Linked DNA regions of Homo sapiens. The protein of the gene in region 1 interacts with the protein of each later gene in a pairwise test. Each region holds a gene or a part of one and is shown in the gene's direction. Other genes may lie near its edges.

Region 1 (3,500 bases):
TCATTAGTCATTGTTGGACACTTTGGCCATGCTTAATATAATTCAGTACTGAATATGTATTTCAATGTGAGAGTTTTTGACATCAACATTTTTAACTTTTGTCTAATTTATAATCTTAGAGTTAATGGAAATCAGTGCCTCTATAACTATGGTTTTAACCAGCTAATAAGTTGTCTTCATGATCTTTAGCTTCTAAACAATGAATAGTAGATACCATTTTTTGTTAAGATCTGTGTCTGAATTGAAAGGGATCAAAGTGTATGGTGAATAAAGCAGTAGAATGCAAATCAGAAGATATAATATTTAACATGATTAGCTAGTGTTAACTCTTGCTGTCCATCAGTTACATAATTAAAATTTTTATTCAGCACTTGATTAACATAAATGTTTCTCAATTTTCTATCTTTGTTCTACAGAATGGTAGATAACGCAGATCATCTCTGGAAAGGATATTGATCCGCCTCATGTAAAGTATGCTTAGTTCCTTTCCAGTGGTGTAAGTATCAAGTCCTTTTTGATTTTTATCTTCACAATCATTTTAGTAAAGTTAAGATGTCACTATGATTATGATCCAGATTTGACAACAGACGTTTGTAGAGTTGAAAAGCTTTTTTAGAAAATGAATCAAATGTTATACCTATTTGACATTAAGGTGAATAAGTGTCATGATCATGTGGTGAGAAATGAATTTTTAAATCTATCAGCCTTCTCTTACCATTTCTGTTTTCAACTTTGAATTTTAACATTAATTTTAAATTGAATATAAAATTAATTATTATTTTTAACTGCTTAAAGCTTAGAAGCATCCAAGATAGATGACTAACAGTTCAAGAGAGCTAATATTAGATTCCTTGTGACAAGCAGACTACTGGAAGCATACATCTTCATGTTGCCTTTTGTGTAAAAACTCCTAGCACCTTAACCATTTTCCTTTACCTGCTGGGGGCATGATGATGTAGTTAAGCCTATTAGCTGATGTGCTAGCCTTTCTTTGGAGTCAGGCAGAAAATACAAATTGAGATAGTGGTATTGTGTTGAGAGTGTTTTTGTGCTAGGATATGAACTATAACCACCAGTTCATATTAAATAGGCCTTTGAATAAAAGTATTCCGGGAATTTCAGATATTAGAGAAGACAGAGTATCTATTAGCTCATTAAGTGCATCTTTAGAGTCGAATGCAGAGTGCCTTTAGCATAAGTATTTTCTAAAATTTGATGGAGTCTCCACTTTGCTTAAATTCCTTCCGTTTTGGTTGACAGTTCTATAATACAGTAAGTAAACATTAAGAGAGATTTTCCTTATTATTTAGGCTTTTCATTATAGTTCCCCCACCCCCACCCCAGTAGATTCTATGATATAGTGAAAAGTTTCTGGAACAGACCTAGAAGATGTGAACTGTAGCCCGACTTTCTGCTAAGTAGCTATATCCTTGGGAAGGCACTTCACCTCTTTGGGCCTTAGTTTCCCTCCCCACTTTTTAAAAAAATTTATTTGCTAATGGCTATTTTCAATCTATCAGCCTTCTCTGTTACCATTTCTATTTTCAACTTTGAATTTTGACATTAATTTTAAATTGAATATAAAATTACTTATTATTTTTAACTGCTCAAAGCCTAGAAGTTTCTGAGATAGATGGCTAAGCATTCAGGAGAGTTAAGACGTCTAATGGCTATTGAAAATAGTAAGATGTCTAATAGTTACTGAAATGAATGTAAGCATCATGAAGCCATGAATTTTTGCCTGATTTGTTCCTTGTTGTGTCCTCTGTGCCTTGCACAGGATCTGTTACATAGTAGGCATTCAATAAATGTTACTTAAATGAATGATTTTTGTCTAAGTGATCTCCAGTTTTCTCATTCCACACCTAACTTATATCTCCCTTTATAAATGTGCATGTTTGTACTTGGATTTTTGTCACATATGGTAGAAATAAGATGATCAAAGTATGATTTCATGAATCACAGTGTTTATTGCCATACAAAGAGAATTTTTTCTTGGGTTCACAGTACTTAAAGATGGGGAGAGTAACATAGACAGACTTCACAGGGAATACACTCAATAGATGAGGTACATTAACCACATTATGAATGTGTTCCAAAGCTATTAAAGTGTCTTTGCTCAATTATGATGAAAGGAGGCCTCTGTGTTCAAGTGAAGGCTAAAGGTGGAGGTGTACCTTTACATGAGCAGTTCTTGGGAGAGGCTGGCTTGACCACCATAGCTGAGATCTGAGACCACAAGGAAGGCCCCTCAGTGCTAGAAAATGCTGGCCTGCAAGGTATAAAAGCTTTGAGGCCTGTTGCAGCCTGAGCTCTCTGGTTTTGGAGAAGCTGCTGACAGAGAGTAGCCCTGCCACAGCCTAAGCTCCCAAAGTGTCTGTTAAGCTCTTGAGTGTATATGTATTTTGAAGTCCAGTAGTTGTGACAGTAACTCACATATGCAGTTTGACATGAGGTGACATTCCTGAGAGGATGGAGAGTTCTCTCTCTGATAAAAATATTGTGATTGACCCTAGAGTGTGTTAAATTAGCATGCAGTAAATATCATGTATGCAAAACAAAACTAACCTATTTTGCCTAGTCATTCTAGATAATAAAAATAAAGACAGCAGAATTGAGCTGAAGAAAAAGCTGTTATCCAATAAAATTTTACTGTTGGTGCTTTACAAGTAAGATAGTAATGTCCTTTTTACCTCTGTGATTTCAAGATTAATTATTTGTGAATGCTTTAATCTTCTTTGCTCTACATGTTTGTAGAATTTAGCTTATGAAAGTATATTCTAGACCTCATGCCTTATCCAAGAAGGGTTTAGGTACATATTCAAGTCAGGATAAAATGTATTGTGAAAAGTTATTATTATGGTCTTATGGTATGATATTTTCTTAGAATATCAGTTTATGAACTGAGCCATAATTCCTGAATTTAATTGTTCTTTTATGCCTTAAACACTGTCTGTTATTACAGTGGTGAAATTCTTCTCACATCATTTTCAATTATTGTTGGCCTGAGTCTGCATTCAGATTAGTAATTTAAAGTGAAAGATGTTCCTTATCCTCTGAACAATCCTTGTGCATAAGAAAATTAATTCAATTCTTACATGTTATCTTTTTCTGTTATAAAAGAATTGCTGGTATCATGGACTTAGATGACCTTTGTAGGTCATTTACTGCCATAAATTCGTGATTATATGCTTAAACTAGGTAAATTATGAGAAATAAAATTGTGAAATGCCGGAGTATATGCCTTTGTTTATATTAATACACATTGGAACATTATTCTCAATATCCAGGAGAGCTTCTAGACTCAGCGTTTTCTCAGTAAAATATTGTATCTTCAGTGTCACATGCATGCTTTGATCCTGTTTGTTATGCTCTTAATCACTTTGCTTTGTAGTGATCATATGAATGATCATTCTAGCAATTGTGGATCATTTTGCTTTAGGTTATATTTGCATTAGGAAACTCTCAGTGCAGGGCACAGACATCTAATTTGAACAAGG
Region 2 (3,500 bases), on another chromosome or scaffold:
CCTTGTCCCAGCTGCCAAGATTCTGATTGACTTCACCTGGGCAGAGCCTGGGAATTGGTGTTTTTTAAAGTACCCCTCAACAGTTGTAGGGTGCACTCGGGCTGAAGTACTTTGAAGGCCACAGTAAAGATTGGATTTTATTCTGAGGGAGATGGCTTTACTGAGATGAGTGACATGGCATGACTTAGGGTTGTAATAGGGTCACTCTAGCCACCCTGTGAGGTGGGGGCGAGGCCAGGGTGGAGGCAGAGAGACCCATCAGGAGGCTGTGCAGTAGTGGGGCTCGGAACAGCACAGTAGCAGCAGAGGTGGTGTCAGGTGGTCCAGTTCTGGAGATAGTCCAGGGAAGAATTCATGTGATTCGCTCATGATTGGATGTGGGAGTTGAAAGAGGAGGCAAAAGCCACTGTGAGGAGGAAAAGCTAGGGAAGACTAAGAAGAACAGATCAGGAGTTAGATTGTGGACTGGTTGGTGTCTATTTGACATCCATGTGCAGGTGTGGGGTAGATCATTAGATTTCCAGGTCTGGAGAATTCGGGGGAGAGATGCAGCCAGAGCTCTGGATTTCCACAGGTGCACATGTGCCTGCAAATAGTGGGTGGCGCTGTGCTGAGTTCCCTAGGGAGACAGCGGTGGTGGAGGAGCGTGGAGCTGGCTTGGTCATGCTGAGCAGTGCCAGAAGAGGCACTTCCCCTTGGTTCTGTTGCCTGAGCATAAGGGGGAGTGAGGTTTCTGGGCTTTGTGAGTAGCAGTAGGACTTGAAGTGGGGATGAAAAGGAACAGAAGACCTCCCCCACTATAATTCCAGCAAACTCTTCTCAGCCTGTCAACTTTGAGAAGCAGAACAGAAAGTGGAAGATGTGTGATGAGTTAAAAAGGAGACAGACGGGCCTCTGTGGTTTGCATGACTTAGAAATATGAAAAGAAATTGAACCTATCAAAAAATTGGGGTTCTTCAAGAGCAGCAACTATGACCCATCTGTCCCTAGCATCAGCATGGAGAATCTGCTTGAATGTTGGTGAAGGGCATTGGCGTGCCATTTCCCTGCTCCCTGGGCATTCAGAGTGAGAAGTGCCAGTCCTACTCTCAGGGCCATGCTCAGCTGGAAACCAAGACTTCATCTCTTAGAGATGAGCTGTCATTCATCTCTTAGATCTTTAGGCACAAACTCTCTGGGTTAGATGTCCTGCACCAAGCACTGGAGAAGTCAAAGGCAAATTAGAGATGTTCCCTTTCCTAGGAGTGCATCCCCAGTGAGGGAGGTGAACACATTTTGACATGGAGGCAAAGTGTCAGGCAGACAAGCAGTACCTGCCAGGTCACCACATCTCAGGCCCTTCTGCTCACATCTTGTCCCCATACCTGGCACTGGTCAGGTTTACAGGGACCCAATCAAGCCAAATGAGTTCACAGGACAGATAAACCAGAGGATATATCAACTCAATAGAGGGATTACACCTTTCTGTTGCCCACAGCACCTCCTTCCTCACATTAGTGACCCGAAAGCCAAGTTAGTGATCAGAAGATTGCATGGTGAGCTGGGAACAAGTCAAGGGAATTAGCCCAGGTCACAGAGAAGCCTGGTGAGTGACCTCTGACCCCACAGCACAGTCCCACCCCGCCAGTGTCCCTGTTCCTGGATGGTGTTCCATAAACACTGATTCTGCCCTGAGGGTTCCTACTCACAGGTAGATGGCCCTGTCAGGGAACAAATGATAAAGTTCAGTAAGTCACAGTTCTGTTCACAGCCTCATTGTGGCTTGAAGTTGAAGCTTCCCAAATCTCTTCAACTGTGTGTTGAGACCATCCATTAACGTTGAGACCTGGGGGTCTTCCCATCTTCCTGAGACCTGGGGGCCCCTCACCATAACATGCCCTTACAGAGTCTACGTGCCATCTACTATGAAACAGTATGGCGTGGTCAGAGCCACAGCAGAGGTGTGAACACAGGACAGGAAACAGCTGAGAAGACCATATAGGAATGCCAAGTACACAGGTGTCAAACCATGCTATCCACAGTTATCATGGACATGTGTCCCTTTTTTGCCAAGATTGGCAAGTACATGAGGAAATGCACATCTTTATTTATTGTTGGTGGGAATATAATTTGGGAACCCCCTGGAAGGAACTTTTGCAATACTTACCAAAACATAAACTGCACAATTGTGAAAAGATGTTTGCCTAAGGATATTCATCATAGGCAGCATTGTTTATAACTTAACAAGCTTAACAGCCACCTGAATGTCCCAGGAGGGGATTAGATAGGTAAATTTGGGGCAGTACACACAATGGTACACAGCACAGGGTTTTAAAATGGTGGTGTGGCTTTACTGATGTGACAAACGGCATGCATTGGATGACCTCACACAGTAAGACCGCAAATAAACAGATTTGTCTGTAAAGATATTCGCCATTGTTAACTGGTTGTCTCAAGAGATGAGAATAGTGGAGCAGTTTTAATATTCTTTGTATTTTCAATATTTGATTCTTTTACAATGAACACAGTAATTTTTTAAGAAAAACAAAGCCGTGGTCCACAGTGGGAGGCAGGATGCTGAGGGGTCCACACGGACGGAACTGGACTGCCAGGTGAATGTGACAGCTGAGGGAATGGGAGGTGTCACTGTGATTGTTGTGCCTGGCTGGACAGGGGCTGGGTGATGTTGTCATTAACATGTCATGCCCCATGTTATTCTGGGTTTCAGCAGGTGGGCATGGGAAATCCAGCTGTGATGCCAATAAGCAGTGACTCATCGATCCTATCTGGAGTGGGGTCCGGGATTTAAGTCACTGGGGAAGGGTAGGGGTGGGATCGGTGGAGTAACTGCTGAGAAGAGGATCTGGAAGTACACCCTGGAGCTGTTTCAGTACTTCCGTTGACATCACCCTGGGTGGGTGGGATTGGTGTAGTAACTGCTGAGAAGAGGGTCTGGAAGTACACCCTGGAGCTGTTTCAGTACTTCTGTTGACATCACCCTGGGTGGAACCTTTCATCACACTCCTGTCTCTGCCTTTTCCTTTAATCGCTATTGTCTAATCCTCTTGTAACACACTTCTTTCCGGTCCCCATGCCTCTCAGGCCCTGTCCTATTACCTTATCCTTCTCCGTCTGCCTCCTGCCACCTCCTGGTCCAGGCCTTGTGCATAGCCTGTTAGAGGTCCTCCTGCCTCTAGCCCACCCTCCTCATCATTCCCAGGTGTATTTTCTTAGTACTTTCAGCATGTCATTCTGCTAAAAACTTCCAGAGGCTCCACAGGTCCCCTGCCTGGATTTCATAGCTCCTGTTGCCTTGGCCTCCTGACTCCTGACAGTGATCCTTGGTCACTGGTGCACACCGTGTAGTCATTTCTGACACCAGCTTCTGCTCATACTATTTAGACTAGTACCCTGGCCCAGGCTTCTTTCCAGTCTAGCCAGATCCTGCCCACCCCATCCAGCACCCTGTCTGCACTCAGAATTGTTGACGCCACTCGTTTTAATGTTCAGTGAAACACAGC
Region 3 (4,247 bases), on another chromosome or scaffold:
GGCTCCATGCAGCCACAGCCTCACTCAGTGCCGGCTGGTGAGTGCACACCCGACCAAAGGGCTCTCCTCCACCCAGGGGATCGAGATGCTGGGGTTTGCTGCCTCCAAGACAGGAGGTTCTCAAAGGGGGTAGCCCTGCCCCCCACCCCGCCCCAGGGGACACTGGGTGATGTCTGGAGATACCTGTAGTCGTCATGACTTGGGGGCTGATGGCATGGAGTGGGCAGAGGCCAGGGACACTGCTCAGCACCCTGCAGTGTCCAGGACAGCCACTTCCCCCTCTCCACCGAAAACAACCAAGAATGACCCGGCCCTGAACATCAGCAGTGCCAAGGCAGAGAAACCCTGCGCTAAGATAACAGATGAAACAGTTGCCTTTCTCAGCTCTAGAATCAAGTCTTCATGACAGCCTGGCCTCCCTTGCAGGTTTCTGCCATCCCTTATATTGAAACACTGGCCTGTTTTCCCAGTGCCTCCCAAAGGGCCTGGAATGAGATGGCTATCGTTGCAGATTACACTTTTTTTTTTTTGAGACGGAGCCTCACCCAGGCTGGAGTGCAACGGCGCGATCTTGGCTCACTGCAAGCTCCGCCTCCTGGGTTTACGCCATTCTCCTGCCTCAGCCTCCCCAGCAGCTGGGACTACAGGCACACACCGCCATGCCTGGCTAATCTTTTGTATTTTTAGTAGAGATGGGGTTTCACCGTGTTAGCCAGGATGGTCTCCATCTCCTGACCTCGTGATCCACCTGCCTCGGCCTCCCAAAGTGCTGGGGTTACAGGTGTGAGCCACCGCGCCCGGCTGCAAACACTTCACTGGGCAGCTATTCCGCACCCACCCCCACTGCCCAGCGTCGAGCTCCTGCCTGCCCTTGGGGAGCTCTCAACCCCGGTGGGGGACATGGACACGTTGACCAGTTACAGGCACAAGGCTCAGGGCCTAGAGGCACGATGGGGGATGTACAGGCACATCAGGGGCAGTGGACATATCCTGGAGGCGGCTCCTGGGAGGAGGTGACGGTTGCAGTCTTCGTCGACTGAAAGGCGGCCTGGGTACCGTCGTGGGGGCTCAGCGGGTCCCCAGCCCTGGCACACCACCGCCTCTCTCCGGCAGGAGCCGTCACTCTGCTAAGCCTGTATCTGCTGTTCGGCTACGGAGCGTCTCTGCTGTGCAATCTCATCGGATTTGTGTACCCCGCATATGCCTCGTGAGTGCACGGCTGGCTGCCCACGCGGGGGGTTCTGGGGGCTCCCTGGCAGCCCCTGACCCTGCTGCACCCTCCCTGCAGAATCAAAGCTATCGAGAGCCCAAGCAAGGACGACGACACTGTGTGGCTCACCTACTGGGTGGTGTACGCCCTGTTTGGGCTGGCCGAGTTCTTCAGCGATCTACTCCTGTCCTGGTTCCCTTTCTACTACGTGGGCAAGGTGGGCCCTGCCAGGGCGGGCACAGCCGTGGAGCGCATGGGGCTTGGGGATTCCTGGGAGGCGCTGGGGCCAGAAAGTCCGGAGGATACCAGGAGATGGGGGATGTGAGGGGAAGACTCAGTCCCTTCCCTGGGGAAACGAGCCCTGTCCGGGGGCTGATGGTGGAGGGCCCACCCTGAAGGGTGTCTGATGGTGGAGACCCAAGCCTGCTCCAATAGGATGTCCGATGGTGGAGGGCTCACCCTACAGGATGTCTGATGGTGGAGGGCCCACCCTGAAGGGTGTCTGATGGTGGAGACCCAAGCCTGCTCAAATAGGATGTCTGATGGTGGAGGGCTCACTTAAAGGGTGTCTGATGGTGGAGACCCAGGCTTATTCCAATAATATGTCTGATGGCACAGGGCCCACCCCTAAAGTGTGTCTGACGGTGGAGACCCAGGCCTGTCCCAGTAGGACGTCTGATGGTGGAGGGCTCACTCTAGAGGGTATCTGATGGCGAAAACCCAGGCCCATCCCAATAGGACGTCTGATGGTGGCGGGCCCACCCTAAAGGGTGTCTGATGGTGGAGACCCAGTGCCTGTCCAGGATGGGCATCTGGTGGAGTGGTGCAGCCCCTCTCCCCACCAGGGGCACAGAGCTGGGTGGGCCCGCGTGTAACTCCTGCCCCGCCCTGCAGTGCGCCTTCCTGTTGTTCTGCATGGCTCCCAGGCCCTGGAACGGGGCTCTCATGCTGTATCAGCGCGTCGTGCGTCCGCTGTTCCTAAGGCACCACGGGGCCGTAGACAGAATCATGAACGACCTCAGCGGGCGAGCCCTGGACGCGGCGGCCGGAATAACCAGGAACGGTGGGTGCTCGCAGGCGCCTGGCTGCCTCAGGCCATCTCCCGGGTCTGGACCTGTCTCTCTCCACCTTGCCTCCCTTTCTGACTTTGGCCGCCCCCTCTCACTGTCCGCCTCTCTCTCTCACGCTTCCGGGAACCAGTCTTGCAGGTCCTGGCCCGTAGCCGGGCAGGCATCACCCCGGTGGCTGTGGCCGGGCCCTCCACTCCCCTGGAAGCTGACCGTACGTAACCGCTGTGGGGAGATAGGAGCTGTGTGTGTGTGTGTGTGCGCGCGCGCGCGCGTGTGTTTGAGCGTATGTTTGCTGTGTGCACATGTATTATTGTGTGTGCATGTTTTGTCATGTGCAAGAGGGTGCGTGTGCATGGGCTCAAGTGTATGTTTGGTGTGTGAGTGAGCAAGGGAGTGAGCATGTTTTCTCACGTGTGCATATGTGTGTGTGTGCCCACGTGTGCATGTGAGTATATGTGTGTGCGTGTGACCATGTGTGCACGTGTGAGTGCGTGCGTGTGCATGACTGCACATGCGTGTGCTCTGTGTGCACCCATCTGTGCATGGGTGACCATGAAAGCCTCTGTGTGGTTGACACCATCTCTGCTGAGGGTGGCTGCCCGGCCCCTCGACTTGTCATGCTCATAGCCAGTAGCCTCAGTCCCGCCTGCGAGCAGCTCCGGGGAGCCCAGGCCTGCCTCACGGCCCTCCCCCACCCGCCCCTCTCTCTGCAGTCAAGCCAAGCCAGACCCCGCAGCCGAAGGACAAGTGAAGCAGCCCCCTGAGCCTCACAAGGACCTCCTGGCTGGTGAGGAGGGGGCCGCGCCAGGCTCCCAGGCCTCCACAGAGTCTTCAGCGCATCCCCCAACAGCAGCCCCTGCCAGTCCCTCGGGTCCAGGCAAGGCCCTGGGGGTCTCCTTAAATGCCACCTCGGGCAAGTCCCAGTCCCAGTCCTCGGCCACCCCCAGCTCTGGATCCCAGGGCCAGCTGCCCTCTGGCTCTGGCTGTGGCTCCCGCCTGTCCGGCAGGGCCCAGGGCCAGCGTCGGGCACAGGGCAGCTCCCACTGGTCTCGGCAACACACCCAGCCGCCTGGTACTTCCTCCAGCCCCTCCCAGTCAGCCCTCCCGTCCTCGGGGCCCCTGCAGCCACCCAACGTCACCTCCAGCCCGGTCTCACCCATGGTCCAGTCTCCCAGCAGCAGCAACATCCCCACGCAGCCCCCCAGCAAGTCCTCTGGCAAGCCGGAGGACGCAGCCCCCAAGACCAGCGGACAGCGCCAGAAGGAATCGTCGAAACAGCCTGCCAGCAGCGCCTCAGTGCCCGAGCTGGTCCCCTGCCATTCCGGGACCTCTCTGGAGTACACTTCGGAGTCCACCACCGAGATCACCTGCAGCTGGCCACACCACAGGCCCCCGTGCCTGCAGCACTACTGGTGCCTGAAACACCTGGCCTGCTAGGAGGCTCCAATAAAGCTAACCCGGACCAGACCTGTGTGCCACGTGTGCGGGGGGCCCAGGGGAGGGGCTGCGAGGGCACCGTCCCATTTCATCAGGCATGAATCCCGGCTGTGCCGACCAGCCCCATAATATAGATGAGGAGACTGAGGCCCAGAGGCTAATTCACCCACTCAAGGTCCACCCACATGGCCAGGATGGGTGCAAGCCCCGGAAAAGCTTGTCCTTAATCACAGTGCTTTCTCTCCTCCCTCCCGAACTAGTTGTCTGGCCTATTTGCATTAGCCTGCTTCTCTTAAAACTCCCCCATTTGGGTGCGGTGGCTCACACCTGTAATCCCAGCACTTTGGGAGGCTGAGGCAGGTGGATCACCTGAGGTCAGGGGTTTAAAACCAGCCTGGGCAAAATGGTGAAGCCCCATCTCTACTAAAAATACAAAAATTAGCCAGGCATGGTGGTACATGCCTGTAATCCCAGCTACCTGGGAGGATGAGGCATGAGAATTGCTTGAACCCAGGAGGCAGAAGTTGCAG
Region 4 (3,695 bases), on another chromosome or scaffold:
TCCATTTTAGGAAACTTTTCCTAAAAGGAAGTGGCAATTTTAACTAATCTCCCCTCCGCCGCTCCCAGCTGCCGCTCCAGATGCTGCTGCTGCCGCCGCGGCCACCCCACCCTCGGTCCTCCTCTCCGGAGGCCATGGACCCACCGCCCCCCAAGGCTCCCCCTTTCCCCAAGGCGGAAGGCCCCTCCTCCACTCCTTCCTCGGCGGCGGGGCCCCGACCCCCGCGGCTGGGCCGCCACCTCCTCATCGACGCCAATGGGGTCCCCTACACATACACGGTGCAGCTGGAGGAGGAGCCCCGGGGCCCGCCCCAGCGCGAGGCGCCCCCAGGAGAGCCCGGCCCTCGCAAGGGCTACAGCTGCCCGGAGTGCGCCCGTGTCTTTGCCAGCCCTCTGCGGCTGCAGAGCCACCGCGTGTCGCACTCGGACCTCAAGCCCTTCACGTGCGGCGCCTGCGGCAAGGCCTTCAAGCGCTCCAGCCACCTGTCGCGGCATCGCGCCACGCACCGCGCCCGCGCCGGGCCGCCGCACACCTGCCCGCTCTGCCCACGCCGCTTCCAGGACGCCGCGGAGCTGGCGCAGCACGTGCGCCTCCACTAAGCTCGAGACCCGGCCTGTGCTGCCCTGCCCGTCTCAGGGCCACCAAGTCTGACCCACACAGCGTCACTCACTCCCACACACACCCCCTGGCTCTGCTGAGGTTACTGCCTTACCCTGGGCCTCAGTTTCCCCACCTTCCAAAGGGAGGAGCATCATTCCTTCCTTACCCCCTTTCTAGCTGTGTGATGTAGACCAAAGTCGTTGCCCCTCCCTGGGCCTGGGAACCAGTCGGAACTGGGTTCCAGTCCAGCTGTGCTGTGTGAGCCTGTGCAAGTGACATGACCTCTCTAAACCTTGGTTTTCTGCTCTCTGGAGCGGTGAACCGGTGGTTGTCTGCGGGGAAGAGATGATAAAGAGCACGGGCACGGTCTGGTTCATTTCTGTATCTACCCCCCTTCCGCCCACGCCCCCGACCCTTTGCTCAATAAACATTCCGCACTCCATTTTCAGGCTCTTCCTTGCGTGTGCGTGCACGTTGGGTGCTGGGGGGTGGAGACCGGATCTTCCTCGCTTGGGTACTTTCCTCTCGGTGTGTGTTTCTGGCCGGAGCCGTTTCGCGACGGCCCGGGCGCCCCGCCCCAACCTTCCTTCCCTAGACCCTCTTCTCTCCCTTCGGCTTCTCTCTTTCGGCCGGCGCCGCCAGTTCCTGGGGCACACCCAGAGGTCCCCTTCTCGCCGCCGCCTGCAACTGCGAGGGTAGCCCGGGGCCGCTTGGAGTCGCCCGGACCTGAGAGGCTGCTGCACTGGGTACGGGGGCCGGGAGGAGGAAGGGGGCTGGGGGCGGGCGGCGGGAGGGGCTGGACCGCGTGGAGGGTACCTGGGCCGGGGCGGGAGTGGGGCAGACGCCGGAGGGGGCTGTTCTGGAGCTTGGAGGGGGCGAGAACTTACACAGAAAGGCCCAGAAAGCGAGGGCTGCGGCCCCGGGGGTGGAACCCCGGAGAGCGCTGGGACCTAGAACGAGCCTGGTGGAGGCCGGGCGAGGACTAGAGAGAACCTGAGGTGGGTGGACGGGTGGGAGCACGGAGTTGTTCAGACACGTGGCTGGAGAGAGGGCCGGAACCTGGGGGTCCTAACGTCGGAGCCCCTGTGAATAGGCTTGGCTTGTATGGAGGGGGTCAGGAAAGGCTTGAGTATGTAGCATAGGCCAACACGCAGACCCTGGAAAGGGCTAGAAGGAGGGGAGGGAGAGGCCTGGAGGCCTGCGGGGTGGGGCACCCAGTGACCTGGGAGGGCACAAAGAGGAAGGTTAGAGCGAGGTCCAGGTTGTGCAGAGGAGGTCAAGAGATCCTGTGAGTACAGTGTATGGTGGAGCACCGAGGCTAGGAGAGGTTTTCCAAGGAGGAAGACCCTGGGGACCTTTTAGGGGGCCACAGACTCCAGCTGTGAGCGGGACTGGAAAAGAGGGACTGAGGGGCAGCAGGATGCAGAGGTCCTGGGCCGGGTATAGGGAGGGAAAAGGATGGAGCCTGTGGTGCTGAGCTGCCCTCTTCTATATAACCTTCTTATCCCATCTCCCATCCACCAGGCCTCAGCCAGCCCTCCGGATGCTGGTGCTGCCATCCCCCTGCCCTCAGCCTCTGGCATTTTCCTCCGTTGAGACCATGGAGGGCCCTCCCCGTCGGACTTGCCGCTCCCCAGAACCTGGACCTTCCTCCTCCATCGGATCTCCCCAGGCTTCATCTCCTCCAAGGCCCAACCACTACCTGCTTATTGACACTCAGGGTGTCCCCTACACAGTGCTGGTGGACGAGGAGTCACAGAGGGAGCCAGGGGCCAGTGGGGCTCCAGGCCAGAAAAAGTGCTACAGCTGCCCCGTGTGCTCAAGGGTCTTCGAGTACATGTCCTACCTTCAGCGACACAGCATCACCCACTCGGAGGTAAAGCCCTTCGAGTGTGACATCTGTGGGAAGGCATTCAAGCGCGCCAGCCACTTGGCACGGCACCATTCCATTCACCTGGCGGGTGGTGGGCGGCCCCACGGCTGCCCGCTCTGCCCTCGCCGCTTCCGGGATGCGGGTGAGCTGGCCCAGCACAGCCGGGTGCACTCTGGGGAACGCCCGTTTCAGTGTCCACACTGCCCTCGCCGCTTTATGGAGCAGAACACACTGCAGAAACACACGCGGTGGAAGCATCCATGAGCCGGGCTGCCGGGTGCCCCAGGTACCACAGGACTTTGCAGGGAGCCTGGACTCCTGTCCAGACACCTGGTGAGAGCCTGAGGCTGGTGTTCAGGGCCCTGGACACAGACACAGAGCAGCCGCATCTCAAAGGCAGAGCCCTGCCTGAAGGAGGAATCCGTGAGTAATCTTCAGGTCCTCCGTGTTCTGGAGCTGAGATGGGAATGAGCCCCTACACAGAATGGAGTCCTCTAGCCTAAAGATATCAGCTGTTCCATGGCAGAGCCTTGACTGGATGGAGGTGGGGAGTGTGGTGTGTAAAGTCTCTGGCCTCATAAAAGGTGGCTGTGGGTCGTCAGGAATCTGCGCCATCTTCCTGGGGCTTCTGCGCTGTTGTTGGGGAAGGGACCCCAGTCCTGCCTTCCACCCCCCAACCAGGCCTGAGACTGATCAAACAATAAACACGTTTCCCACTCTGAGCACTCGAGGTTTGTTTTTAGAGACAGCATCTCAGACCCTCTTTGGTGGCCGTCTAGCAGGGAGACCTCAGCTTGCCTGGCTGGGGAATGGGAAGGTTGGCCTGCCTTGGGGTTATCCCCTCCTCAGCTCCTGAAGACCTGGGTCATCTGGGAAGAATGTTTTTAACTGAAACAATTTTAAAACCACAATCTCCTGTTACAAACACATTTTATATGGCAATAGAGTATACAGATAAGCAAAATACACGTGAACCAAGTTTCCTTTTTTTTTTTTTGAGACGGAGTTTCACTCTTTTTGCCCAGGCTGGAGTCCAATGGCACAATCTCGGATCACCGCAATGCCTCCTGGGTTCAAGCGATTCTCCTGCCTCAGCCTCCCTAGTAGCTGGGATTACAAGCGTGTGCCACCATGCCCAGCTAATTTTGTATTTTTAGTAGAGACGGGGTTTCTCCATGTTGGTCAGGCTGTTCTTGAACTCCCAACCTCAGGTGATTCACCT
Region 5 (3,500 bases), on another chromosome or scaffold:
TAGATCTATTGTTATTTGGATCCCATGTTTTTCTCTTTTAGATACCTTTTTTATTTTACAGGAATACAGCCTTCAATAGTTGTTTCTGGAAGGATATGCTGGTGATAAACTTTCTGAGTTCTCGAATGTTGAAAATGGCTTGTCTTTGTTCCTGATTGAAAGTTTACATGTGGAATTATAAATTCCTCAGAATTTTGAAAACTTTGCTGTGGGAATCTAAAATACTTGGTGTGCTAATCAGAGGTCCATTGCAGATCTGATGGTTATTCTCCTGTAGAAGATTGTAATCTACAATTGTAGTCTACGATCTACGGGATTTGTTTACATTCTGAAAGGTTTCTTTGATTTTGTCTTTGAACTTTTCTATAAAATTTATTTCAGTAGTTATCTTTAATTTATAAGAGTTCTTCTATCATCTTTCATTTTTCTTTCTTTTTAAATAGCAACCTGTCCTTGATTTATGGGGAAATACCTTGAATTTCTCTGATGCTAATTTCTCTAGAGTTCTTGAGACACTTCCCTGAATTGGTGACTCTAACAGTGGGTTTGTATTTAGGTATTCCATACTAATTTTTGTATTTTAAATATTTAAGTTATTTGATAAGTACAAAAGATTATAACAGGTAAGGCGTATGTAAACAAACATACATATAATTACCAACCAGTTTACTAATTCATTAGTGTAACTTTAGCAGGATGCACTTTCCTGATCACATCCACTGCAACCATGTCCACCTTCACCAATGACAGTAGCCATTGTACTGAATTTTGGATTCATCATTCCTGGTCTGTCTTTATACTTTTAACATATATACATATGTAAAATTTATTTATTTATTTATTTATTTTTTGAGACGGAGTTTTGCTCTTCTTGCCCAGGCTGGAGTGCAGTGGCGCGATCTTGACTCACCGCAACCTCCTCCTCCCAGGTTCAAGCAATTTTACTGCCTCAGCCTCCCGAGTAGCCGGGATTACAGGTGTGCACCATGCCCGGCTAATTTTTTTGTATTATTAGTTTTCACCATGTTGGCCAGGCTGGTCTTGAACTCCTGACTTCAGGTGATCCACCCGCCTTGGCCTCCCAAAGTGCTGGGATCACAGGTGTGAGCTACTGTGTCTGGCCATCCATATTTCTTAAATCCAAATGTTTGAAAATGAAGAGAAAAAAACTGTAAAGTTTCACCAAACTTGTCTTGCAGAAAAACCCTGACCTGCACTGATATTGTAATCTTTGTTGATCTCACTTAGTGTGAATATTTGTATGTTTCACTGTAGAGATTCTAGGAATAGAATTGCTGGTATTTAAGAAGAATGTGTGCATATTCACCAATATTGGATAATGTCAGATTATCTTCCAAAAAAGGTGGTGTCAGTCTTCGTTCTCTCCAGCAATGCAGAAGTTTTCATTACTCAGCTTTCTTGCTAACATCTACTTTTGTCACACTTCAAAAGGTTTTATCGGTTGGGCATGGTAGCTCACGCCTGTAATCCTAGCACTTTGGGAGGCCATGGTGGGTGGATGGCTTGAGACCAGGAGTTTGAGACCAGCCTGGGTAAAATGGTGAAACCCCATCTCTACCAAAACAAAACAAAATTAGCTGGGCATAGTGGCCCACACCTGTAGTCCCAGCTACTTGGCAGGCTGAGATGGGAGGATCACCTGAAGCTAGGAAGTGAGCTGTGATCATGCCATTGCACGCCAGCTTGGGCAACAGAGTGAGACCCTGTTTCAAAAAAAAAAGTTTTTACCCACGAGTATAAAATACCACCTTTTAGTTTTCATTTGCTTTGCTAATGAGTTTGAGCATCTTTTACTATACTGATTAGCCATTCTTCCCTTTTCTCACATTCCTATTCATGTCTTTTGCCCATGTTTGTACTAGTTTTTTAAAAAAATTATTTCATACTGATTTTTAATAGTTTCACAGTTGGATGCATGTGGTGCAAATTTCTCCTTTCAATTGGGCTCACTTTTAAATCATTTTTATTTTTATTTTTTGAGATGGAGTCTCACTCTGTAGCCCTGGCTGGAGTGCAGTGGCGTGATCTCAGTTTACTGCACCCTCCACCCCCAAGGTTCAAGAGATTCTCCTGTCTCAGACTTCTGAGTAGCTGGGATTACAGGTACCCGCCACCATGCCTGGCTAATATTTGTATTTTTAATAGAGACGGGGTTTCACCATGTTGGTCAAGCTGGTCTCGAACTCCTGACCTCAGGTGATCTGCCCACCTTGGTCTCCCAAAGTGCTGGGATTATAGGCATGAGCAACTGCATCCAGCCTTATGCGTTTTTTGATGAGTAGAAGTTCTTAATTTTTATGTGATTGCATTTATCAGGCTTTTCTTTATGGATAGTGCTTTTGAATCTTGTTGAAGAAATTTTTCAACAGAGTTCTCGAAGATATTTTCCATTATTGTAAAAGTATAAGACGTAGTTTTTTTGTTTTTTGTTTTTGTTTTTTTTTTACCTTTTCTCATTTAAGGTTTTAATCCACCTGGAGTTGATTTTGTATACAGTGTGAAGTGGTGACCAAGATGCATGGTTTTTCCTCAAAGAATAATAAATTGTTCCATCACCTTTCATGCAAATTTTTTTCTTCACTGGTTTGGATGCCATCACTCATCTGTGCTTTGGTTCTGGACTCTGGGCCGTTAGTCTGTTTTTACAGAAATTGTTAAAAAGTTACAGTAACTAAAACAAGATGATGCTGCTGCTAGCATAAACAAACTTCTTGCCTGGTGAGGTGGCTCAAGGCTGTAATCCCATCACTTTGGGAGGCCATGGTGGGAGCATCACTTGAGCCAGGAGTTCAAGACCAGCCTGGGCAACATGGTGAGACCCCATCTCTGTGTAAGATAATATTTTTTATAATAAAAAACCAAACTTCTTTTGATATATAGCATACACATAGGAAGTACACAGATAATGAAATTATAGCTGGATGAATTTTCTCAAAATAATAATCGTGCAGGTCAAGAAAGAGAACATTACCAGCACTCTAAATATTCCCCTCCCCAGTGGCTAACCTCACCTCATTCTTCCAAAAGCGACCTACTATCCTAACTTTAACAGATTAGTATTGCCTGTTTTTGAACTTTATATAAATGGAACCTGTGTAGTATATATACAGTTGCCCCTTGGTGTACCTGGGGGATTGGTTCTAGGATCCACCCTCCCAACAGGAAAATCATGTGTACTCAAGTCCTGAAGTTGGCCCTGCAGAACCCATGTATAGGAAAAGTTGGCCCTCTGTATATGTGGGTTTCACGTCCTGCAAATACCATATTTTTGATCTGCATTTGGTTGAAAAAAAAATATGCGTATAAGTGGACCTGCACAGTTCAAACCAGTTGACAAGATACAGTTGACCTTTGACTAACACAGGTTTTTGTTATTGGATATGTTATTGTTATTCAATATTCAACTATATGTTATTGTTATTCAAAGGTCAACTGTATTCTGTTTCTGTATATGTATTCTGTTGTTTCTGCCTTTTTTT
Region 6 (3,500 bases), 9.6 Mb from region 1:
ACTGTGAAATGAAAATATTTGCAAGATCCAGTAGGCTCTTTGTACTATGCACTGAAATCCTAGCATAAGGGAATATTTTGGGTGTCTCTTTGAAGTCAAGTATAACAGGATTTGACCAATACTGCCTGAAGTGTAAATATAGTCAATAAAAATCATTTTTACATTCTGCATTTGAGTCTCATTGCTATAACAAAAAATTCTGTTTTACAAAGTAGTCATGCGCTGTATGATGTTTTGGTCAACGATGGGTCGCATATAGTTTTTAGGCCAGGCACTGTGTCTCACTCCTGTAATCCCAGCCTTTTGGGAGGCCAAGGTGGGTGGATCACTTCAGGTCATGAGTTCAAGACCAGCCTGGCCAACATGGTGAAACTCCATCTCTACTAAAAATACAAAAATTAGCTGGTTGTGGTGGCGTACACCTGTAGTCCCAGCTACTCAGGAGGCTGAGGCAGGAGAATTGCTTGAACCAGGGAGGCGGAGGTTGCAGTGAGCCGAGATCGTACCACTGCACTTCAGCCTGGGCAATGTAGCAAGACTGAGTCTCAAAAACAAAACAAAACAAAACAAAAAAAACACAGACACACACATACAGAAAACCAAAAAATAATAATAAAACCCCAAAATAATGGGTTGCATACATTTTTAAAATAAATTTTATAAATGTAGTGTAGCCTAAGTGTAAAGTGTTTACAAAGTCAACATCAGTGTGTAGTAATGTCCTAGGTCTTAACATTCACTGAGCACTCACTCACTGACTCATCCCAGAGCAACTTCCAGTCCTGCAAGCTCCATTCATGGTAAGTGCCTTATGTAGAGGCACCATTTTTTTTTGTCCTCTATACCATATTTTTACTATACCTTTGCTATGTTGGGGGTATTGATTATTTTTATTTTTTTGAGATGGAGTTTCGCTCTTGTCACCCAGGCTGGAGTGCGATGGTGTGATCTCAGTTCACTGCAACCTCCGCCTCCTGGTTTCAAGGGATTCTCCCGCCTCAGCCTCCCCAGTAGCTAGGATTACAGGCGCCTGCCACCATGCTCAGCTAATTTTTTGTATTTGTAGTAGAGTTGGGGTTTCACCATGTTGGCCAGGCTAGTCTCAAGCTCCTGACCTCAGGTGACCCACCGACCTTGGCCTCTCAAAGTGCAGGTATTACAGGTATGAGCCACTGTGCCCGGCCTTATGTTGGGGGTATTTAGACACACAAATACTCTTGTGTTACAGTTGCCTTATGATGCATTTCTCAGGATTTATTTCTCTCATTAAGTCACTAGTGACTGTAATATTAAAAGGCAGACTTGGGGTACTTTTTTGTGTACTAATGTGTCCTACAATTACCTGTGGTTAAGCATCCCTTTAATTTTTTGTCTGTCAGGTTGCTTCTCATTCTGTCCTGCTCTCTGCTCCTTCACCCTATGCACAGCCCCATGCCACTGAGTAGTCCTGATCTCTGCTAGTGAGTCAAGCACACTGCATCTGAACATAAGTCATGCAGGGCGTGACAATTGCCTCTTATTACTCAGCACCCCTGCCAGCTTGAACCCATGCTCAGGCGGGGGATCCTCACTTGGTCTTGCCAACTGCAGGAAATTCTTGCACACTTTCTCTACTTCTCTCTCATCCCTTCTTCCTCCTCTTCCTTTTCTCTCCCTCTCAGAAAACCCCCAGTCCTGTATGAAGAGAGGAATCCTGCAGCGAACGCTGGGCAAGCCCTAATGGCCTGGATCATAGGTGTTGATAATGATTGTTCCTTATTATAAGCAGACAACAAACTGCTGAGAACCTGCGCTGCTGCCCGTTGTGCAATGAATGCTGAGCCTTCTCACCTGCTCTGTGGGCTGATGAGGGTTTTCTCCGACCCCGTTGTTTTTCCAGTGCGAAAATCCAAAGCAGCTGATGAGAAGAGACGCTCCTTGGCTAAACAAGCACGAGAAGACTACAAGAGGTTATCCCTCGGGGCCCAGAAAGGAAGAGGCGGTGAGAGGCTGCAAAGCCCCTTGCGTGTTCCGCAGAAACCAGAAAGACCTCCCCTTCCACCCAAGCCTCAGTTCCTAAACTCAGGGGCATATCCTCAAAAACCTCTTAGGTAAGAAGCCACACAGATGGGTTTATGCATAAACATTGCAATGGGCTTTGAATAAGCGTTGAAATTAAAGGGGAATTGTATGAGCTGCCATGGGGTGTGGAGGGCCAACTGGCAGCCTGTGTAAGTAGCTCAGGTTCATGTCTAAGCCTTCTTCCTGGGTGATCTGGGCGGGCATTCCTCCCTTTTTTAGCTGTCAAATGTCCATAGCTGTTATACTTAGTATACCCAGTGAAATAGTAAAGCTGTGCATGGAATGAGAGAACTTCCCGTGTCCCTACCCCACTCTCCCCTTTCCCTCCCCCGCCCCCCTCCCCCCCAGAGGCAGCCGGTGAGCCAGTGAGGGGAGAAGAGGAAACAAGTGGGGTTTCACTGATGCCCAAGATCACCCTTAGTCAAAGATTATCAAAGTAGGAACCCAAAGGCTTGCTGACTTTCGTGTGATCAGTGGGAGTACATTTTCACTGCCAAGGATTAAAGGTTTGATGGTAATTCTCATTCACGGATACATAGCCAAGTTCCTCTTTTAAGAATTTGGAAAGCCTCCTTTTTTAGATGAATTGTCTATTTGGTGGTGGAGATACCATTGTCTGCTAGGCTGTGGAAGAATTAGGAAGAACCATTTGTTCTGGAAAAACTGTAGAAAAGTGCAATGATGCTATTAAACCCCCATCCCTTATGTTTGCTGATTCTAAATTTTTTTCTGGTTATTGATCTTATTTTTAACATCCTAGTATTTAGAAAGAAGTATTAAAATCAAATGTTGATTGAAAGAAACAGAATTGTCTAAAGCCTTGCATTCTGAAATAAAAACTAAAAATAATTTGAAATACTTCTCTAAGATTATGGAGAAATGAAAAATAAGACTCTTCTCCTGCTTGGAGTCGTAGTTATCTTCAAGGTTGTCTTTAAACAGGAGTGATGACCTCAGGGGAAACACAAAGGCGGATGTTTTTCTTTGCTGTAATTATTTCTACTTACTCTACTGGAAAGTTCCGTTTCGGGAAGTGGGGACCAACGTGGAACTCAGTGGAGTAAGTGGAAATAATTACAGTAAAGACCATGATCTCCAAAGTGATCGTTTGGGTAATGATTCTTCTCTTACCGACAACAAAGCAAGAAATGTAGTCAGGAAATAGGAGTCTCTTAATTGTGAGAACAGCTGACAAAGGTGCACACGGCTCTAAGTGCTGGAGCTTGTCTGTCCGCACGTTGGCGACAGAGCCTCAGCAGGGATGTTTTTGCAGCTAACTCCTGTTCACCGTCTCTTCCAAAGGTAGCATGGAAATGACTTGTAGATGTCCCTGTCCCACAGCATTTTGAAGGACAGTATATTTGATTGACAGCAATGAAGGTGGTCTTTAAAAAAGGGCAATTCCTATTTTCAGCTGTGCTCAGTTAGCTCATTTTTTC
Region 7 (3,500 bases), on another chromosome or scaffold:
CTAAGTTTATTCCAACATATATAATGATTAAGAAGAATATGTGTACATGGTTTTCTTTTTAAGGAAAAAGAGCGGTTGAAACAAGAAAAACGTGATGAGAAAAGATTAAATAAAGAGCGTAAACTAGAGCAGCGAAGATTAGAATTAGAAATGGCAAAGGAACTAAAGAAGCCTAATGAAGACATGTGCTTAGCAGACCAAAAGGTAATTTATACGTCATGTACACCATTTCATTCATAAGTTTAATTTTTCCAGTTTTCTTACCTGATTTCTTTGCCAGAGCTGCTATTGTGAAAGCCTTTCATTTTTAACTATAGCAGTGAATTTCCAACTCTAGGTCAATTTGCCTTTCCTAGATAGCTAGAAGTAAACCTCTCTGGAGCTCTTGTGCTGGTAATGGCGGTTTTTTTGTTTGTTTGTTTGGTTGGTTGGTTGGTTGGTTGGTTGGTTGGTTGTTTTCAGACAGGGTCTTACTCTGTCATTTAGGCTGGAGAGAGGGCAGTGGCAGGATTATAGCTCACTGAAGCCTCAACTTCTCGTTCCCAGGCTCAAGTGGTCCTCTCACCTCAGTCTTCTGAGTTGCTGGGACCACAGGCGCTTGCCACCATGCCTGGCTAGTTTTTTGGGTTTTTGTTATTTTAATTTTTTGTAGCGGCAGACTCTTATGTTGTCCTGGCTGGTCTTGAACTCCTGGGCTCAAGTGATACAGCCACCTCAGCCTCCCAAAGTTCTGGGATTCCAGGCACAGAAAAATCTCAACTCCTCCCCACATCCCTATGGATATTTAAATAAATGAGGATTTATAATCTGTGACCTCCTTCAGTGCTTTAGGTGGCAAACCTTTATTGAACATGTTTACTACATGCTAGGACTGTGCTAAGCACTTATTTGAATTTTCTCATTTAATCCTCAATACAATCTTGTGGAGTTAGTATTTCTTCCCATTTATACATGAGAAAACTGAGACACAAAGAGGTTAAGGAACTTGCCCAAGATTACACAACTAATAAATGGCGATTTGGATTCAAACTCCAGTTTGTTAAACTCCAGAGCCTATACTGTTTATCATCCTGAAAGCCAAGAAACTGTGTCCAACCAAAGCACCTCATATGTGTTTTGTCTTCCATAGTGCTTCACAGACATGTAATGTTGCTGAAATACATAAAAGTATAAATTTAGAAACATTGCTGTAATCTTGGCAACCAGCATAATTTCATATACTTTTGAGTAAAAATCAATGATGTTTTGACTATAGTTAAGAAGATGGTACTTCTAGAAAAATATCAATAATGCATTTCATCTCTATATTATTATACTTAATTAGTAGGATATGTATTTACTTATATGCAATATTCAAATGATTTGCAAATAATGATTATCTCTTGATTTATGTAAGCTCTTTTTTTATTTTATTTTATTATTATTATACTTTAAGTTTTAGGGTACATGTGCACAATGTGCAGGTTAGTTACATATGTATACATGTGCCCTGCTGGTGTGCTGCACCCATTAACTCAATTATGTAAGCTCTTTTCTAAAGTGCTTAAAGAAAACTTTTAGTACTCTAGAATGGATTGAACTATATTAATATTCTATTTATTTACTTAGCATAAATGCTTCTAAATAAAAATGAGAGTATACTTACTAGTTGTAGTCATTTGGATATTTAAATTTTCCTAAGCAGAGAATGGGTATATAAATTAGTTAACACATTTAATAAGCTCATAGTGATCAAGCTTTTTAAATCCTAAGTGAGCTTCATTTTCTTGTATCTTTTATTTTCATTTAAATTCATATGTACTATATCAAATATGTAAGTCCATTTTAAGCCATATTTTTAATAGCTCAGCTTTGCTACATAAATTTTTAGAATTACATAGAAATGTATATGTTTCCTGTGGTTCAAGAAAAAGGGAGAATGAGAATTAACTGGCTTTCAAGAAGAATATAAAATATTTGTATGAGATGAGCTATTATCTATAGTTTTGTGTTTCCACACAGTATTAACAGAAAAAGTCTTCAATTGGTTACCTCAATAAATGCAGAGTGGAGAAATATTTTTGAACAAGGACCAATTCAGATAAATAGAAATATTTATGTCACTTTTTTTCCAATTAAAATTTAAAGTACTTTTTTAGGCTCTCATTAACAGGCAAAATGTTTTTAATTCAGATTACCTATTTATTGAAATTTTAAAATGTTGATGACAACTGGTACTGCAATTAAGTCATTAAAATGTTAATATGTGAGCATATTTGAGAAATAACAACAGAGATAGCTAATTTTAATACTGAAGCTAATACTTGCCTAAATACAGGGAAACCTAAAGACCTTTAGTTGCATTATAACTGGGTTTATGTACAGGGTCATGGATTCTAGTTATGTGGACCTAGTTATTTATCTGCATTCATTAGCCATAGATGGTACCACTTTCTCCAACCATAGAGCCCACAGATGCATGCTGTTTGTTTCTAAGCTACAAAAAAAGTGTGATTTTTAAATGTCATCATCATTAGAAGAAATTGGTGCACATGCCCCTATAAGTATGTCCATGGTAAAGTACTTTTGAAATGTTTATATTTTATTTAATTTTTGCTCCAGTTATATAATCCATGTTTTGTTAATATGGATATGTCAGTTGATTGAATATGCAAGTTGATTAAAATTAATGTCTCTTTTGCAAAGATCTAAGTTCATAATTGAGTTCAACCAAAATTTATTAATGGTTGCTTACTTGTATGAAGATACTTCAAGACACTATGCTTAGTTCCATGGGGGTTACAGAAATGCCCCCAGAGAATTTAGCATCCCAAAGGAAGCTACTGGTACAATACAAGAGGGGAAAAAAGGTAGCAGCTTATTTTACTTTAGAAGATACGAAATCATGGCTTTTAAAAAATTAAGCTGTTTTTATTTTATTTGTATTTCATTTTATTTTCAGCCTTTGCCAGAGTTGCCTCGTATTCCAGGACTTGTTCTCTCTGGAAGTACATTTTCAGACTGTCTCATGGTGGTGCAGTTCTTACGAAACTTTGGTAAAGTTTTGGGCTTTGATGTGAATATTGATGTTCCAAACCTGAGTGTTCTTCAAGAGGGATTGCTAAATATAGGGGACAGCATGGGTGAAGTACAAGACTTGCTTGTGAGGCTCCTCTCAGCTGCTGTATGTGATCCAGGTCTAATAACAGGATACAAGGTAAAAAAAAACAAAATATAAAATGTTTTAAATTTGTACTGTCAGTGCATTGGTAGATAGCTTTAGCATATTAGCAGAAGATTATATAGATTGATCTAATTTTTCCACATAATGTCTCACAAAGTTAACTGTAGATTTGTGTCAGGTTACACTTCATACAAAGAAAACCTGGTTATAAAGCTTAAGGAATGTAGACCATTCTCAAGTTATTCTTTTTTCCTCTAGCTGTAGGCAAAGACCAAGGTGATTTAAGGAAATCCTTAAGCGATATTCATCAACAACAGAATTCATAATTCATAAGGCA

The links.
Region 2: the proteins of HMBOX1 (region 1) and ZBTB24 interact in binary tests that used the Homo sapiens proteins (3 or more experiments, as listed by UniProt).
Region 3: the proteins of HMBOX1 (region 1) and REEP6 interact in binary tests that used the Homo sapiens proteins (3 or more experiments, as listed by UniProt).
Region 4: the proteins of HMBOX1 (region 1) and ZNF581 interact in binary tests that used the Homo sapiens proteins (3 or more experiments, as listed by UniProt).
Region 5: the proteins of HMBOX1 (region 1) and PIAS2 interact in binary tests that used the Homo sapiens proteins (3 or more experiments, as listed by UniProt).
Region 6: the proteins of HMBOX1 (region 1) and SH2D4A interact in binary tests that used the Homo sapiens proteins (3 or more experiments, as listed by UniProt).
Region 7: the proteins of HMBOX1 (region 1) and BAZ2B interact in binary tests that used the Homo sapiens proteins (3 or more experiments, as listed by UniProt).

The regions. Positions count from the first base shown.
Region 1 is NC_000008.11:28,963,395-28,966,894, forward strand, and holds part of HMBOX1 (homeobox-containing protein 1), read left to right. Parts: intron 1-416; 5' UTR 417-473; coding exon 474-496; intron 497-3,500. UniProt on the Homo sapiens protein: Binds directly to 5'-TTAGGG-3' repeats in telomeric DNA. Associates with the telomerase complex at sites of active telomere processing and positively regulates telomere elongation.
Region 2 is NC_000006.12:109,469,720-109,473,219, reverse strand, and holds part of ZBTB24 (zinc finger and BTB domain-containing protein 24), read left to right. Parts: intron 1-3,500. UniProt on the Homo sapiens protein: May be involved in BMP2-induced transcription.
Region 3 is NC_000019.10:1,494,181-1,498,427, forward strand, and holds the end of REEP6 (receptor expression-enhancing protein 6), read left to right. Parts: intron 1-1,113; coding exon 1,114-1,207; intron 1,208-1,288; coding exon 1,289-1,427; intron 1,428-2,104; coding exon 2,105-2,273; intron 2,274-2,410; coding exon of another isoform or gene 2,411-2,491; intron 2,492-2,993; coding exon 2,994-3,031; 3' UTR 3,032-3,747; downstream 3,748-4,247. UniProt on the Homo sapiens protein: Required for correct function and survival of retinal photoreceptors. Required for retinal development.
Region 4 is NC_000019.10:55,642,429-55,646,123, forward strand, and holds ZNF581 (zinc finger protein 581), read left to right. Parts: upstream 1-1,220; 5' UTR 1,221-1,346; intron 1,347-2,124; 5' UTR 2,125-2,143; coding exon 2,144-2,737; 3' UTR 2,738-3,195; downstream 3,196-3,695. Other genes in the region: ZNF580 (zinc finger protein 580), read left to right, coding at 81-599. UniProt on the Homo sapiens protein: May be involved in transcriptional regulation.
Region 5 is NC_000018.10:46,907,508-46,911,007, reverse strand, and holds part of PIAS2 (E3 SUMO-protein ligase PIAS2), read left to right. Parts: intron 1-3,500. UniProt on the Homo sapiens protein: Functions as an E3-type small ubiquitin-like modifier (SUMO) ligase, stabilizing the interaction between UBE2I and the substrate, and as a SUMO-tethering factor.
Region 6 is NC_000008.11:19,362,193-19,365,692, forward strand, and holds part of SH2D4A (SH2 domain-containing protein 4A), read left to right. Parts: intron 1-1,879; coding exon 1,880-2,090; intron 2,091-3,500. UniProt on the Homo sapiens protein: Inhibits estrogen-induced cell proliferation by competing with PLCG for binding to ESR1, blocking the effect of estrogen on PLCG and repressing estrogen-induced proliferation. May play a role in T-cell development and function.
Region 7 is NC_000002.12:159,386,049-159,389,548, reverse strand, and holds part of BAZ2B (bromodomain adjacent to zinc finger domain protein 2B), read left to right. Parts: intron 1-63; coding exon 64-204; intron 205-2,941; coding exon 2,942-3,196; intron 3,197-3,500. UniProt on the Homo sapiens protein: Regulatory subunit of the ATP-dependent BRF-1 and BRF-5 ISWI chromatin remodeling complexes, which form ordered nucleosome arrays on chromatin and facilitate access to DNA during DNA-templated processes such as DNA replication, transcription, and repair.